Homo sapiens: one gene and its partner. The protein of the gene in region 2 purifies or fractionates together with the protein of the main gene of each other region. This does not show direct contact. Each region holds a gene or a part of one and is shown on either strand. Other genes may lie near its edges. The genes, in order: NDUFV3 and SERINC1.

Region 1 (8,258 bases), on a different chromosome or scaffold from region 2:
AATAGCTGGGATTACAGGCACGCACCACCACAGTTGGCTAATTTTTGTATTTTTAGTAGACACAGGGTTTCACCATGTTGGCCAGGCTGGTCTCAAACTCCTGACCTCAAGTGATCCATCCGCCTTGGCTTCCCAAAGTGCTGGGATTACAGGCGTAAGCCACCGTGCCCTGGCCCTCACCTACATTGGTTACTTTCTCTAAGTCAGACTGGGGGTCTGTCTCTGCAGAGTGCTGGGGGAGCGTGCTCCATGTGATGCACAGGAGCCCCCCACATTGCCCCCAAAGGTGTGACTTAAAGTTATCTATCACAAGGGATGGGAGGTTACTTGGCCAACCCAGAAACCCTAAATAGGTAAAATAGCTCATTGAGTGCCTGTGGCCAGCGGGGAGCAACTTCGTCCCTGCACCGCACAAAACTTCACCTCTTCCTACTCCGTCCCTGCACCGCACGAAACTTCACCTCTTCCTACTCCGTCCCTGCACCGCACGAAACTTCACCTCTTCCTACTCCGTCCCTGCACCGCACGAAACTTCACCTCTTCCTACTCCGTCCCTGTACTGCACGAAACTTCACCTCTTCCTACTCCGTCCCTGTACTGCACGAAACTTCACCTCTTCCTACTTCGTCCCTGTACTGCAAGAAACTTCACCTCTTCCGAATCTCACCAATGAAAATGTCCTCAAGTTTATATAAAATATCTAACAGAGGCAAACAAAACAATTCCCTTCCTTTTCTGATGGTAAAATACTGCAATACAATTTGTTTGCAATGCAGTAGTTAAAATTAGTAACATTCCTGTTCCTTTTTTTTGATTGAGTTTCACTCCTGTTGCCCAGGCTGGAGTACAATGGCACGATCTTGCTCACTGCAACCTCCGCCTCCCAGGTTCAAATGATTCTCCTGCCTCAGCTTCCTGAGTAGCTGGGATTACAGGTACCCACTAGCATGCCTGGCTGATTTTTGTATTTTTAGTAGAGATGGGGTTTCACTATGTTGGCCAGGCCGGTCTCAACTCCTGACCTCAGGTGCTCCACCCGCCTCGCCCTCCCAAAGCGCTGGGATTACAGGAATTATCCACTGCACCTGGCCAAAACTCCTGTTTCTAATGATCAAAAACCAGGGCTGTAGGATTAGAAGTCACTATTACTGGCTGGGTGCAGTGGCTCACGCCTATAATGCCAGCATTTTGGGAGGCTGAGGCAGGTAGATCATGAGGTCAGGAGTTTAAGACCAGCCTGGCCAAGATGGTGAAACCCCATCTCTACTAAAAATACAAAAAAAATTAGCCAGGCATGGTGGCGTGAGCCTGTAGTACCAGCTACTCAAGAGGCTAAGTAAGGCAGGAGAATCACTTGAACCCAGGAGGCGGAGGTTGCAGTGAGTTTAGATTGTGCCGCTGGACTCCAGCCTGGGAAACAGAGACTCCATCTCAAAAAAAATAAAAGAAGTCACTATTACATTATTGATACTCAGCTGATAATCAGTTTAATGCGAAATTGACTAGGCTGAGCACAGTAGAATCACACCGCTCTAAAGCACTTAAAATTCTCTAATTATATGGATTTGCCCAGTGATTCATAACCTTAGAGTTTAAGAAAAATTCCTTGCACATAGTAGATATTCCAAAATATATGTTGGATAATCAGTGTTACTGTTGCTAATTCACCACTCACTGTAAAAAGTGTGAAAGTGGCCGGGCGCAGTGGCTCACGCCTGTAATCCCAGCACTTTGGGAGGCGGAGGTGGGCAGACCATCTGAGGTCAGGAGTTCGAGACCAGCCTGGCCAACATGGTGAAACCCTGTCTCTACTAAAAATACAAAAGTTAGCTGGACCTGGTGGTGAGTACCTGTAATCCCACCTACTTGGGAGGCTGAGGTGGGAGAATCACTTGAACCCAGGAGGCGGAAGTTGCAGTGAGCCGAGAATGTGCCACTGCACTCCAGCCTGGGTGACAGAGTGAGACCCTGTCTCAAAAAAAAAAAAAAAAAAAAAAAGGTAAAAGTGAAACCGATTATGCACAGCGGGCCTTGTGACTCTTGAGTGGATTTTATTTTTGCACTCCAGGATGCAGTGAAGACGGTGGAAGGTTCATCTTCACACCGAGGGCCCTCAGTGTCGAGGTGACTCCCGGCCTGAGGAGGGCTGAGGCATCCTGAATTTTGAGAGTTCGAGGTTGAGGTCTAAGAAGGTGTACGTGCTGTAGTCATGATGCTGCAGGTTCTTGTAGGTAGTGTTGTCAAACGGCTCAGCAGGCACTGGGGCTGGCTCTGCGGAGGAAACACGATGCCCATGAGACCAACACAAGGACAGCTCTTTATGAATGACTCGGCTCACACACAGGCGCTTACCTACCAAGCATTCTTCATCATCCCTATCTGTGAACAGCTCTTTATGAATGACTTGGCTCACATACAGGCGCTTACCTACCAAGCATTCTTCATCAACCCTATCTGTGAACAGCTCTTTATGAATGACTCGGCTCACACACAGGTGCTTACCTACCAAGCATTCTTCATCAACCCTATCTGTGAACAGCTCTTTATGAATGACTCGGCTCACACACAGGCGCTTACCTACCAAGCATTCTTCATCAACCTATCTGTGAACAGTTCTTTATGAATGACTCGGCTCACACACAGGTGCTTACCTACCAAGCGTTCTTCATCAACCCTATCTGTGAGGAACAAATTGTCTAATTAAAAAAGAAAAGCCTACAAAAGCCACAGTAAAGAAAAAGAAAGATATTACTTGGAAGTTTATTCTAAAACATACAGCCTTCCAATTTAAGAAATGGAATAGTTATTACAATGCGTTTTTTTTTTTGAGATGGAGTCTCACTCTGTTGTCTAGGCTGGAGTGCAGCGGTGCGATCTCAGCTCACTGCAAACCTCCACCTCCCAGCTTCAAGTGATTCTCCTGCCTCAGTCTCCCAAGTAGCTGGGATTACAGGCGTCTGCCACCACGCCTGGCTAATTTTTGTATTTTTAGTAGAGACGGGGTTTCACCATGTTGGCCAGGGTGGTTTCGATTTCCTGAGCTCAAGTGATCTGCCCGCCTCGACCTCCCAAAGTGCTGGGATTACAGGCGTGAGCCACCATGCCAGGCCATACAACGTGTCTTAACATCTTAGTTTGTATACTTCTAGGCTTCTCAAAAGTTTGAAAATGCCTAGAACAATTATAGCAGGACTTTCAGGTAACTTAGAGATGCATGATAAAATCTACCTCTATTAGAAATCTGGGCTGGGCATGGTGGCTTACGCCCATAATCCCAGCACTTTGGGAGGCCGAGGTGGGAGGATTGCTTGAGCTCAGGAGTTCTAGATCATTCTGGGCAAAATAGTGAGACTCTGTCTCTACAAAGAATAAAAAATTAGCAGGGGCCAGTAGCAGTGGCTCACACCTGTAATCCTAGCACTTTGAGAGGCTGAGGCGGGCAGATTGCTTGAGGCCAGGAGTTTGAGAGCAGCCTGGCCAACAAGGTGAAACCCTGTCTCCACTAAAGTTACAAAAGTTAGCAGGTGTGGTGGCATACTCCTGTAATCCCAGCTATGTCAGGAGGCTGAGGCACAAGAATTGCTTGAACCCAGGAGGCAGAGATTGCAATGACCTGAGACTGCATCACTGCACTCCAGCCTGGTGACAAAGTTAGACTCTGTCTCAAAAAAAAAAAAAAAAAAAAATTAGTAGGGCATGGTGGCACACCTGTAGTCTCCAGCTACTCAGGAGGCTGAGGTGGGAGGATTGCTTGAGACTGGGAGGTGGAGGTTGCAGTGAGCTGAGATCACATCACTGCACTCCAGCCTGTGGGACAGAGCACGTCTGTCAAATAAAAAATTTTTTTTGAAAAGCTTAAACTAAAGGAGCCTTCTGAATCTCTGATACAAGAAAATTAGATAAATTCTAATAACAACAACACAGCATTTAAACATTTGGTAATTCGAAACTACAAGTAGGGGTTGAGGCAAAAGAAGTACTGGTCTCCTGCAGCAGGACACACAATATAACATAATGGCAAAATCAAAACCAGCACGGGAACACAGGCTGATATTTGGGTTAAGATTTGTACTGACTCAATTTCTGTAAATCAGGTCATTAGGTCTGTCTTAACTTCCATTCATGCTCCACAAAAAAATAACCTAAATACATTTATTTTCTCACTATTTCAATTAATATCAAAAGCTCTGTTTTTCATTTTTAAGTTACGTTAAGCAAAAACGATGTCTCATTTAAAGAGCTGGCATCCTTCCAATCTCCACAAGGTGAGTATCTTCGGTGTGGTGTAGGGACACCTTCAAAGCAGAACGTACTATTTTAGTTACTATAGGGAGGGTGATAACTGACCAAGACGTGGGTTACAAAACTCTGATCTAAAACCACTCTACCTGGAAGGCCAGTACTGGGGCACGGACTGCCTAGTGAGACCGCGGCCCCATACAGACACGGCTCTGCAAGGTGGGCTCTGCGCATGCGCACAGAAGATAGTTAAGAAACAACACACCCGTGAAATATTAGAACTTTCTCTTCAGAAAGGTTTGCAGTCTGAAAACTCCCAATTCTGTTTTTATCCTGCGAGTTGTGTTATTCGTCTCCATTTTCGAGCAGGAGGAGTGAAAGCAGCAGCATCAGGAAATGCAGTTCCTAAGGGCTGGGAAGTCTGGCAAGCACCGGCACTTGGCGTACTGATCAAAGAGCAGACGGAGAGGGGGGAAAACACATAGATCCTGTCGCACAACGAACCAAGAACAAGAAGGCGTCATGTAAGGCACATAAGGCAAGGGGCGGCGGTACAGAGGATGGAGAGCAGACACAGGACGGAGCCGCGCTTGTTAGGGATCATGCACTTTAGAGAAGTCTTCAAGAAGAGCCATGGATTCTAAAACGGAAGCTTGCCTTTTCATGTTTGCCACGACCCACCTAAAGCGCATTGCATCTTATCAAGTTTCGTGCTCAAGAAAATGGTAACATAGCTGGGCGCAGTGGCTCACGCCTGAAATCCCAGCACTTTGGGAGGCAGAGGCAGGTGGATCACCCGCGGTCAGGAGTTCGAGACCAACCTGACCAACATGGCAAAACGCTGTCTCTACTAAAAATACAATAATTAGCCAGGCGTGGTGGCAGGCACCTGTAGTGGCACCTACTCAGGAGGCTGAGGCAGGAGAATCGTTTGTACGTGGGAGGTGGAGCCGGCAGTGAGCCAAGATTGCGCCACTGTACTGCAGCCTGGGTGACAGAGTGAGATTCCATCTCCAAAAAAAAAAAAAAAAATGGTAACATCATAGGAATAAATACTGTTGCCCTTTAAAAGCCTCCACACGCTAGGCACGGTGGCTCATGCCTGTAATCCCAGCACTTTGGGAGGCCGAGGCAGGTGGATCACCTAAGGTCAGGAGTTCGAGACCAGCCTGGCCTACATGGTAAAACCCTGTCTCTACTAAAAATACAAAAATTAGCCGGGGGTGGTGCCACACGCCTGTAATCCCAGCTACTTTGGAGGCTGAGGCTGGAGAATCACTTGAACCCAGGAGGCGGAGGTTACAGTGAGCCAAGATTGCGCCATTGTACTCCAGCCTGGGCAACAAGAGCAAAACCCATGTCAAAAACAAACAAACAAACAAACAAACAAAAAACCCTTCATAAAATGTCTTCTAGAAGAGTAAAGCAGCCCACATGTGTTTTCAGTTAACCAGAGAAGGAAACGCTGTCCAGGGGAAAGGATGCGTATGCAGCGGCTGACCTGTACAACACTTACTGCTTTAATTCCTGAACTATGAATCTGCCCTGTGCACAGGATGCTGAAAGCAATCATCTAGTTTACCCAAAGACTCTCACGCCAAGCGACTAGCTACTGCTCTTCACCTATGCAAGTTAAACCGGAGGCTCCCCTTTTCACTTAGCGAGATGCCCCACAAGGTCATCAATGAACACTTGGACACCTTCAAAAGTCAGTGGTGACAATGTTAAGCTGCCAGTTTTCAAAAATTATACCGGTTAAGAAATAGTGAAGAGTGCCAAGGACATACTCTTTAAGATGAAGGTTGGGGGCCGGGCACGGTGGCTCAGGCCTGTAATCCCAGCACTTTGGGAGGCCGAGGCAGGCTGATCATGAGGTCAGGAGATTGAGACCATCCTGGCCAACATGGTGAAACCCCGTCTCTACTAAAAATACAAAAATTAGCTGGACATGGTGGTGGGGGACTGTAATCCCAGCTACTCAGGAGGCTGAGGCAGGAGAATGGCTTGAACCTGGGAGGCAGAGGTTGCAGTGAGCCAAGATTGCACCATTACACTCCAGCCTGGAGATGGAGCAAGACTCTGTCTCAAAAAAAAAAAAAGATGAAGGTTAAGCAGGGTGGGGTTGCTCATGCCTGTAATCCCAGCACTTTGGGAGGCCGAGGCGGGTGAATTGCCTGAGGTCAGGAGTTCGAGGCCAGCCTGGCCAACACGGTGAAACCCCATCTCTACTAAAAATACAAAAAAAATTAGCCAGGTGTGGTGGCCTGCGCCTGTAATCTCAGCTACTTGGGAGGCTGAGGCAGGGGAAGTGCTTGAGATGGAAGTTGTAGTGAGCAGAGATCGCGCCACTGCACTCTACCTGGGCAACAGAGCAAGACACCATCTCAAAAAAAAAAAAAAAAAAGAACGTTAAATATTTTAGGGATTCTAAATATAAAGATGTGGATTGTCCATAATTAAGACATACTTTTCTGCCTGGCTGAGACAGCGTTACAGGCCATATTTCTAGTACAGAATTTGACTAATTGTAACACTGCTCTACAAGCATATGTAAATTAGTTCTTTTGCCTCACTACCCTAAGGGACAGGGTGCACTTGGGAGCGCGAGTCAAGGTATACCCTGTGTGCCGCCTCGGTCGTCCCCTGGCGCGGCTGCATCTTCCATGGCCTCGCCCTCGGCCTCAAGCTTCAGCGCTGCTGTCTTTTCATGGAAACCGTGGTTATTCTCAACAGGAACTGTCTCCAAATTGCTTGGTGGTATCTGATCTTCCACGATTGCCTGTCCACCCTTCAGGTGGCCTTCTATTCCCTGCGTCCCTGAGGTTTCCTTTCTGGGCAGGGGAGGGGCCGCCTTGCGCTGGGGCTCTGGCACGGGTTTTTCCAGATGCCCCTCTGCCGCCCCAGGAGGACTGGCTTGCAGCTGCCCCTCTGCTCTGGCCTCTTCTGCCAACACAGCAGGCGCTGGGCTGCCCTTCGGTGGCGCAGACAACCCTGATTTTGTGTGGACAGGTAAGGGTCCTTTAACTTCAAATGGCTTTTGGCTTTCTTTATCTATTTCATTTAATCTAAATGTTTTCTGCAATTGTTTTTCCTTTAAACTTTGCTTCAAAAACTCTTCATCTACTTGAGATCTGGGCATTGTGGTTTTTGGTCTCGCATTTTCCCTGCCTTCTGATGGCTTAGCAGGGGACCCTTTCTTCTTTGGCTGGTGGGGCTTCTCTGGATCAGTAATGTCCACATGCGGCTTCTGCAGCAAGGTTTTCTCTTTTGCTGATACTGTAACTCGGGGGGCTCTGTTTTCAAAGGAATGAGAGGCCTCTGGTTTTCGAAGCCCCCCTCTGCCTTTGCTCACCACTCGAGGAGTGACCTCTGAAACGTCAGCCTCATCATCAGATTCAGAATCAGAGGAGCTGGAAGAGGATGAAGACGAAGGCGACGTCACTTTCCGACCCACCTGACGAGCTTCTGAATCAGAGCCCTGTTTTCTGAATGGAGACAGAACTTTCTGTGGAAACTCTACCAAAGTCTTTCTTGACAAAAATTTCGGAACCCCTTCATCTGTGAATAGCACGCTGCCACTGGGACTGGGACTAGCTACCTTCCTGCCCTTATTCACAGCTGGCGGGTAAGAACTGGGTGAAGATAAGTTTTTAGACAATTCAGCTGCTGTCTGGGTGGCTAGGAGCTTGCCCCTCTCCTTTGGTTCCACTACATCTGGGAAACGGCATAAAGAGGAATGTTATTTAACAAAACAACTTAAAACTCAGTCAAAATTACAGACATTTCATGACACATTACTTATTACTGACAGTATCTTCAATGCAATCATCCTAAGACAGGTCCCATAGAAACCCACCAAGCAACCAACTGAGGATGGAAAATGTTCAGAAAATCATCTGCTTTAGTACTGAACATGAACAAACTTTTTTCCTTGACATTATTCCCTAAACAATACAACAACTATTTACATGGCATTTACATTGTATGAGGTATTATAAGTAATCTAGAGATGATTTAAA
Region 2 (8,367 bases):
AAAAAATACGCACTCAGTAATCACTAGTTCTTAACGACTTAACTAAACTAAATATCTTGATAGGTATTGTATATAAGGCTCACCCATTCAAAAAAAAAATCAATTCTGTCTACTCACTAATACCAATGTTGAGACTGGGATGGGGAAAAGCATGTAAGTAGGTATTAGTGATTGGTAATGTTATAGTTATAGGATTAGTTGGTATGATGTTTATAATGTTTAAAGTAATTAACAATCAAAAAAAGAGACAACCATGCATGAATAAAAAATTATACTGCCATGAACCAAGGATTATGATCAATCTAATTCTAGGTCTCTTAGCAGCAAACAAAAAGTGAACAATTTAACACTCCAATTTCTGCTCAGTGGTATTACACATAATTTGTCTCTTTATAGTTCAGACATTTTCTACAATTATTTTATAAATAAGGAAAAAACTTTTACTAAATTTGATTAAGCCTGCAGAAACTTGTACTAATTAAGAATGAGGTTGGTTTGTTTTTAATTCTGGCTTACCTGATCTAATTTAATGATTTGAATGTTACTTTTTTTTTGTTCTGTTTTTTGTTTTTGTTTTTTTTTTTTTTGACACAGAGTCTCACTCTGTTGCCCAGGCTGGAGTGCAGTGGCGCCATCTTGGCTCACTGCAGCCTCCGCCTCCTGGGCTTAAGAGATTCTCCTGCCTCAGCCACCCGAGTGGGATTACAGGTGTGCGCCACCACATCCGGCTGATTTTTGTTTTTTTGTTTTGTTTTGTTTTGTTTTCTGAGATGGAGTCTTGCTCTGTTGCCCAGGCTGGAGTGCAGTGGCATGATCTCAGCTCACTGCAACCTCCGTCTCCCAGTTCAAGCAATTCTCCTGCCTCAGCCTCCCGAGTAGCTGGGACTACAGGCATGTGCCACCATACCCAGCTATTTTTTTTTGTATTTTTAGTAGAGACGGGGTTTCACCATATTGACCAGGCGGTCTCCCACTCCTGACATCAAGTGATCCATCCACCTCATCCTCCCAAGTGCTGGGATTACAGGCGTGAGCCACTGCAGCAGGCTCTGAGTGTTACTTTTGAAAAGCTGAATAAATTTTAATTTCATCAAAACCTCTAAGTAAATGAGCACATTAACTGTTAAGAATGTGGAAGAGATGGTCCCCTTCAATGACTATTGGCCTGCAGTAAAATCAAACAATTAATGAATAGAGACAGAGGCACAAGGAAGAAAAGGGAAAAAGATTACTGAAACTGCAAACAATAAAATAAATTCCAAACTGAGCACGGTAGCACCTGCCTGTAGTACCAGCTACCTGGGAGGCTGAGGTTACACTTAAGCCCAGCAGTTCCAGGCTGCAGTTCACTACGACCATCCCCTGCACTTCAGCCCGGCCAATACACTTAGACCCCCATCTCTAAAAAACTGCCTCACTGCTTCTACCTTTTTAATGTACTTCGCTATTAACACAGAAACTAAAAGGCAGGGTCAATTTTATCACGGACATTCTTCTAATCAATAAAGGTGGCGATCTATTTTGTAAAAGGGAAAACATGTATCTCATCTTTTAAATCTCTATTATATACAAAAAACTACAGCACGCCCACTTCATAACTGGACAAGATACGACATTACAAATTGAATTGCATAACATCTTCCAATAAAAAACCGATGAAAACAATCTTATATGATAATCAATTATCAGTTTTCAAAACTGTTTATCACACTAAATATGCCTCTTTTGTATAAAAGTCAATAATTAAACTCTCTAATATCTTGAGATAAAATATTCCAGGCTTCCGTGCAAGAAGAAATACCATATAATCAAAAGAACAGACTGGCTGGAGTAACAATCCCCACATTATTATTTGATTAAAATTCAACATTTTTAGTTCAAGACATATCAAAACCTTTAAGAGTATATATAACGGAATCATTTGGGAAGTCAGAAAAGCAATTGTTAGAAACAGAATTAACAAATTCCAGACTAAAGAAAAGTGATTTGAGTCCAAATACCTCGCCTAAAATTACAAATATCTTTATTAACTGCACTGCCAATGTTTTGCCTACTATTTTGGAGGGGGCAGAGATTATCTTAAATAAACTGAAATTTGTGCCACACGGACCAAAGTCTTGCCACTATACTGAAAATAGTTTTACTCTAACAACTCTTTAATGAAAATGCAATGTACAGCTAATTAAGCATGAAATTTCAGATGACACACGCATGTTTTGTGCCTAAAGACAAAATTGTCATTAGGCACAAGGCATGCGTGTGTCATCTGAAATTTCAATTTTAAGTTGAAATCTGAAATTGACACTTCAAACAGTTACGGCAGAGCTATGACTATTTGTTTCAAAAACAATATTACTACATTAGCATTACTGCCAGGCGGTTCCAAATGACGACAGGCACTTTTTAATCATAATCTGCGCCACTGAACAAAGAGGGCGACATGAATCCAGGAACGACAGTGCGGCAGTCTGAGGTCGCCAGGAAAGAGATGACAACAGAGTGGGTACCCCACCGAAGGAAAGGGGCAAAGACCTTTGTAGAGATGGCCTGCGCAGATACAAACAAAACCACGAAAAGGGACCTCAAAGAATGGGAGACAGCGTTCACGAAGCAGGGGTGGGGGAGGGGCCCTATTCTAGTTCTCTTCCTCAATTTGAGTCATCTTCCCATCGCCACTAAACCTTACGGCCAGTGATCAGTTCTTCGCAAGACCCAAAGCTCTGAAGCTGAGTCTGAGTGACGAGAGGAGACGGGAAGAAAACGGGGACAGAGAGGGCACTCCCTGTTGGGTGGGGCACCACATTCCCGCCGGGCTCACCCAGCCCCGGCTCGGATCGCCTTCTCTTTGGTCTCTCACACTAGCACCCCAGAGGCCGCAAAAAGCACCTTACCCAGCTCGCCATGGAGCACAGCCCCAGGACGCTCCCCATCTCCACAACGTCACAAGAGCAGCGGATACAGACAAGATGGAGACAGCTTCTTTCTCGCCTTTCCGAGATTATTTACTATCTGCGAGACACTTCCGGACGCACAGCGCAACCCGCCCCTCAGCCTCGCGTCACTTCCTTCCAGGCCTGGGTAGGATAAAACACGGAGCGCGCAGCGCTGAGACTGCGCATGCGCGTCACTAGACGACACGGCTGTCTTCTTTCCTGGAGAATTTCTCAAGGACTGCTGGCTGGAAACTTAACGGCTAATGTGGATCTGACCGTAGTTTGCCAAATTAAGAAAACGGTGTGAGCAAAACCCACCTTTACCTACCATGCACTTGCATTTGGGCATTAGTAGAGAACAGAGCTGAGGTGGTGGTTGACGTTTTGCCCTCCTTCATCTGAGGAACCTCTCTGCTTTTTAGGGGATTGCTTCCTCTTTCTCAGTCTTTGTCCGTCCTAACTCCACTTATTTCCCATTTTTCCCACGTTTGCATCCTGTTTTGCTCTTGCGTTTGCAACGTATTCCTGCAGCCCGCTGCCCGGAACAAGTTTTATTGGGATATTTATATTCATCTGTGTGCTTCAGTTTCTCTGTATCATTTCTGTTTGCTATTGACTTATATTTTAATTTCTTATGCTATTAAGATGTTACAAGAAATTTGCACGTTAAAATTATTTTTAATTAGTTAGATAAGACATTATCAAACTCAAACATTGATTTCGAATGTCATGAGCTGTTGAGGCATGTGGAACCCTTGCATATTAGGTGATGATGCACATCTGCAGGGAATGCATTCCTATAAAAGTTCCAGTTATTTTTTTAGAGTTATTTGTTCTTGAAAATATTCTGGGAAACAGCTCAAACTTGAAATAGTCATTCCCATAACTAATAATAAGAAAGTGTTGTAAAATCTACAAAAATTGCATGGGTCGAGGTGGGGTAAACACCTAAGAATCTGGAAGAATGTCAGAATCCCTACTCCTAGTTATTGTAACCACTAAGGGACAATCTTGCTTTATTCTTCTTTGCCTTATCTGTGGTTTTGTAGACCACTCTTAAAGCAAAGTATTATAATAGAGCATCCATAAGGTTTAAAGAATTGTGGAAATGCTTGTAATCCCAGAACTTTGGGAGGCTGAGGCAGGCGGGTCACAAGGCCAGGAGTTCAAGACCAGCCTGGCCAGCATGGTGAAACCCCATCTCTACTAAAAATACAAAAAATTAGCCGGGCATGGTGGCACGCGCATGTAATCCCAGCTACTCGGGAGGCGAGGCAGGAGAACTGCTTGAACCCGGGAGGCAGAGGTTGCAGTGAGCCGAGATTGGGCCACTGCACTCCAGCCTGGGCTGCAGAGCGAGACTCCGTCTCAAAAAAAAAGAATAGTGGAAATGGAAATTACAAACCTAACAATATTTTTAATTATGCTAAACTTAATACGTTATTTATGGGAGAAGAGAATCCTAGTATCTCAAGTCCTTAAACTTTTCAAAGTACCAGAGAAGGAGACAAAAAACACTTATATGTGAGTAACTTTAAGGTCGTAAAGAATATGTTTATTAGCCAAATGGAGAATGGGTCTCTTAAAATTTAAATTTGCACAGATTCTTGTCTCTTGCTCCATTTAAGAGGGTTTCTGAGATATTCATAAGTTCTTGCACTATTCAATAGAGTTTTTTCACCTGAGATATTCAGAGTTAAATACAAAAGTCATATTAATCTTTCTGGAATGTAACACTTGGCCTTGAAATACATTAAAAAAAATTTACTTTTATTTAACCTGTAGGCTATGTGGAGTGGAATTTGCTCACTTAAGTTATTATATATACAACATTAATTGGACACGACAGTATATATAGACTATTTTATTCGTTAGAAGAGTCTTCGACACCAGTCTCATTTTTCTCTTTGCCAACTATGAAAGAAAATTGAAATGATGACTTTTTCAAATTTCAACCCAAACACAGCTCAAAGCATAGTTTTCTCAATATATACCAGCTATTAGTAGGAGCACCCATTTCTCCAGGTGACTTCCTGTAGCACACGTATAACTTACAATGCCAAAATTCAAATTAGTCTAAGTAAGTACGTTAGTAAAAAACATTCTATCTAGCTGAGCATGGTGGCTCACACCCATTATCTTAGCACTTTAGGTGGCTGAGGCGGGCAGATCACCTGAGGTCAGGAGTTCCAGACCAGCCTGGCCAACATGGCGAAAACCTGTCTCTACTAAAAATACAAAAATTAGCAGGGCATGGTGGCACACCTCTGTAATCCCAGCTACTCAGGAGGCTGAGGCTGGAGAATTGCTTGAACCCAGGAGGCAGAGGTTGCAGTGAGCTGGGATCGTGCCACTGCACTCCGGCCTAGGTGATAAGAGCAAAACTCTGTCTCAAAACAAACAAACAAACAAAAAAGCCATGCTATCTAATAACTCAGTTCTCTGACTTGATTAAGGGCTAGTATGCCAAAAAACAAAAAAATTGGAATATTGATTTTTTTGAGAATGTTACTAAGTAGCCATGCTGGAAGAAGTTTTCAGATAAGCTTGGATGGTACTGCCTGTTACATTCTTCTCTTGTGACTGATGTTGCATATTAGCATGTTCAATTCCTTCACTCCTAATGTTTTCTAAACTTGACCTTAAAAAATCTTTTTTTCTTATGAAATGTATTAATATGCACTGTAAGTGTTCCATGAAATATAGTTTAAGAAATACTGATGGAGGGAAGGATGGACTTCATAGCCTTCTGGCAGCCCTCCTAGAATATCTTTTCTCATAATTAAACTTTTGATCCATATGTGGCATCAGAGAGCTGAAGGTTATGTTTGTTGTCAAGAATCAGAGCATGAATGCTCTGTGTTGTCAATTAAGGACAAGACATAGACTTTAACATTCAAATAAATGGTATGTAAAATTAATAGTCTCTTAGGGAAATTCAGGAGAAAGACCAAAATACTTGTCAGAATAGACATGCACAGAAATGGGCTGGGAGATCTGTGGAGTACTATAGACAGGCTTAAGGTTTTCCTTAGAAGATAGTCCAGGTTCATTCTTACATATAGGTAAATGAATTCTCCCAGATAAACTATAGTTGTGACTATTGTACCCTGAGAAAAATGTAAAGCAGGATTACGAAGCTTATCCTAGCCATAGTAAAAATTTCAATAATGGATTCACAAAAATCAATATTAACCAATGTAATTTCAGAATGATTTAGGTACAAAATTTAGGTTTATGTAAGTCACTCTCAAATATAGATTTGTCAGTTATCAGTCATTTTGGTTTGTTGTTGTTCTTGTTATTGTTTTGAGACGTAGGCTTGCTCTATTGCCCAGGCTGGAGTTCAGTGGCCTGATCTCGGCTCACTGCAACCTCCACCTCCCAAATTCCAGCGATTCTCCTGCAACCGCTGCCTGGAGTGCAGTGGCCTGATCTCAGCTCACTGCAACCTCAGCCTCCTGAGGAGCTGGGATTACAGGCGTGTACCAAAACGCCTGGCCCATTGAATTTTTGAGAGAATACTAAAAATAATAATTTTATTTTCAGAAACCACATCTTCAGCATAAAGGAAAATAAATGTCAATAACCCTTCGCCACCTCTTGTAATTCCTGTTGAAATCCATAAGGTTATGCTGGGTGCAGTGACTCACATCTTATTTCCAACACTCCAGAGACTGAGGCAGGAGGATAGCTTGATCACAGGAGTTAGAGACCAACCTAGGCAACATAGTGAGACTTCATCTCTATAAAAGTAAAAATAGGCCGGGTGTGGTGGCTCACGCCTGTAATCCCAGCACTTTGGGAGCCTAAGGTGGGTGGATCACCTGAGGTCAGGAGTTTGAGAGCAGCCTGGCCAACATGGTGAAACCCTGTCTCTACTAAAAATACAAAAATTAGCTCGGTGTGGTGGCATGCGTCTGTAGTCCCAGCTACTCAAGAGGCCGAGGCAGGAGAATTGCTCGAACCTGGGAGGCAGAGGTTGCAGTGAGCTGAGATCACGCCACTGCACTCCAGCCTGGGTGACAGAGTGAGACTCTGTCTCAAAAAAAACAAGTAAAAATAAATAATCAATCCATAAGGATATGGTTTAGAATCATGTATATCACATTAAAAATTCCCAGTGTAACCTAGAATCAGTGTGTCTCCATCAAGGTTGACTAAAATTAGACTCATCTTTGGTCCCATAATCCTTCCTGCCTTTACACAAATCTCTGTATAAACTTTATTTTTTATCCTAATAAATGATCTATATCTCTGAAATATTGTGAGAGTGGAACAGATTTTAAGGAAAATAATCAGGTCATATTTTTCTGGAAATTAGAAATTATACTGCTTAGTTCTCTTGTCCTTAGTACATCAACACTAAATATAATGAGGACTGAAACATCTTGGCCCCCCCACAGTAGTTAAAGGATGAATAAAATTTGTGCATAGTTTGTTATATAATCCAAGGAGAGCAAAAATATAAAAAGTATTTTATGGCTTTTATCCTAAATTAGTTATATCTTAAATGTAAACATGTTTAAGTATTTCACAGATATTCTGAAAGGATAAGCCAAAAATAGATTAGGACACAGTAACCCATAGGGGTCAGTATAAACTTAGAATTGGAAGAGACCATATTCTGATTAAAGACATGCTTTTATCTGTTAAGACACACATTGATAGTTTTGGAAAATAATTCAAAACTAAGATACAGTGTCAAATGTACAAAAACTCTCTTCAATTATGGTCTTAATGTTAAAACAGCAAATGAACAATATTCTTTCCACACAGATTTTCTTATTTTGCTGAAATCTAAGCCTATAATTCCATAACAAGCAGATATGTTTATACCAGTGAAATAGATGTCTACAAAAATAAGTTTATTTCAGGCAGAACATACATAAATTCAGGAAAAAAGGAAATATTCACTGTGTAAATAATAAAGTGGATAGCAAATTCAAATATGTGTCTAATATTTAATGTACTATTTTATAATCATTGAGAAGGGAGTGACTTCTTGAAAAAGTGTAAATGACATTTCTAAAACATTTCACTTTTCAAGGGCAGATGTATTGACCTTGATAAAATAATGAAATTATATACTGAAGAAATTCTTCACATTCATTCACCCAAAACGTTATTTATTTGTGCTACAGAAAGGAATCAACTAGTTCGATTTGGCACTCATCAGATTTTTGAATTCTTATTAAACATGTTATTAAGGCAACGTCTAAATCAGCACCTTCCAATAGAAATGAAATGTGAATCACATTTGTAATTTAAAATTTTTTGTAGATGTATTAAAAGAAACGGATGAAATTAATTTTAAAGATGCATTTAATTGAACTCTATATCCAAAATATTTCAATGACATTAATATAAAAATTCTTAATAGAATGTTTTACATTATTTTTCATATAAGTCTTCAGAATCTGGTTGTGTTATA

The links.
Region 1: the proteins of SERINC1 (region 2) and NDUFV3 purify together in Homo sapiens (affinity purification with mass spectrometry; 2 studies listed by BioGRID and IntAct, with this or other methods). This does not show direct contact.

Annotation. Positions count from the first base shown.
Region 1 is NC_000021.9:42,902,877-42,911,134, reverse strand, and holds part of NDUFV3 (NADH dehydrogenase [ubiquinone] flavoprotein 3, mitochondrial isoform a precursor), read right to left. Parts: intron 7,954-8,258; coding exon 6,859-7,953; intron 4,296-6,858; coding exon of another isoform or gene 4,233-4,295; intron 2,272-4,232; coding exon 2,114-2,271; 3' UTR 1-2,113. UniProt on the Homo sapiens protein: Accessory subunit of the mitochondrial membrane respiratory chain NADH dehydrogenase (Complex I), that is believed not to be involved in catalysis. Complex I functions in the transfer of electrons from NADH to the respiratory chain.
Region 2 is NC_000006.12:122,468,808-122,477,174, forward strand, and holds the start of SERINC1 (serine incorporator 1), read right to left. Parts: upstream 3,001-8,367; 5' UTR 2,931-3,000; coding exon 2,892-2,930; intron 1-2,891.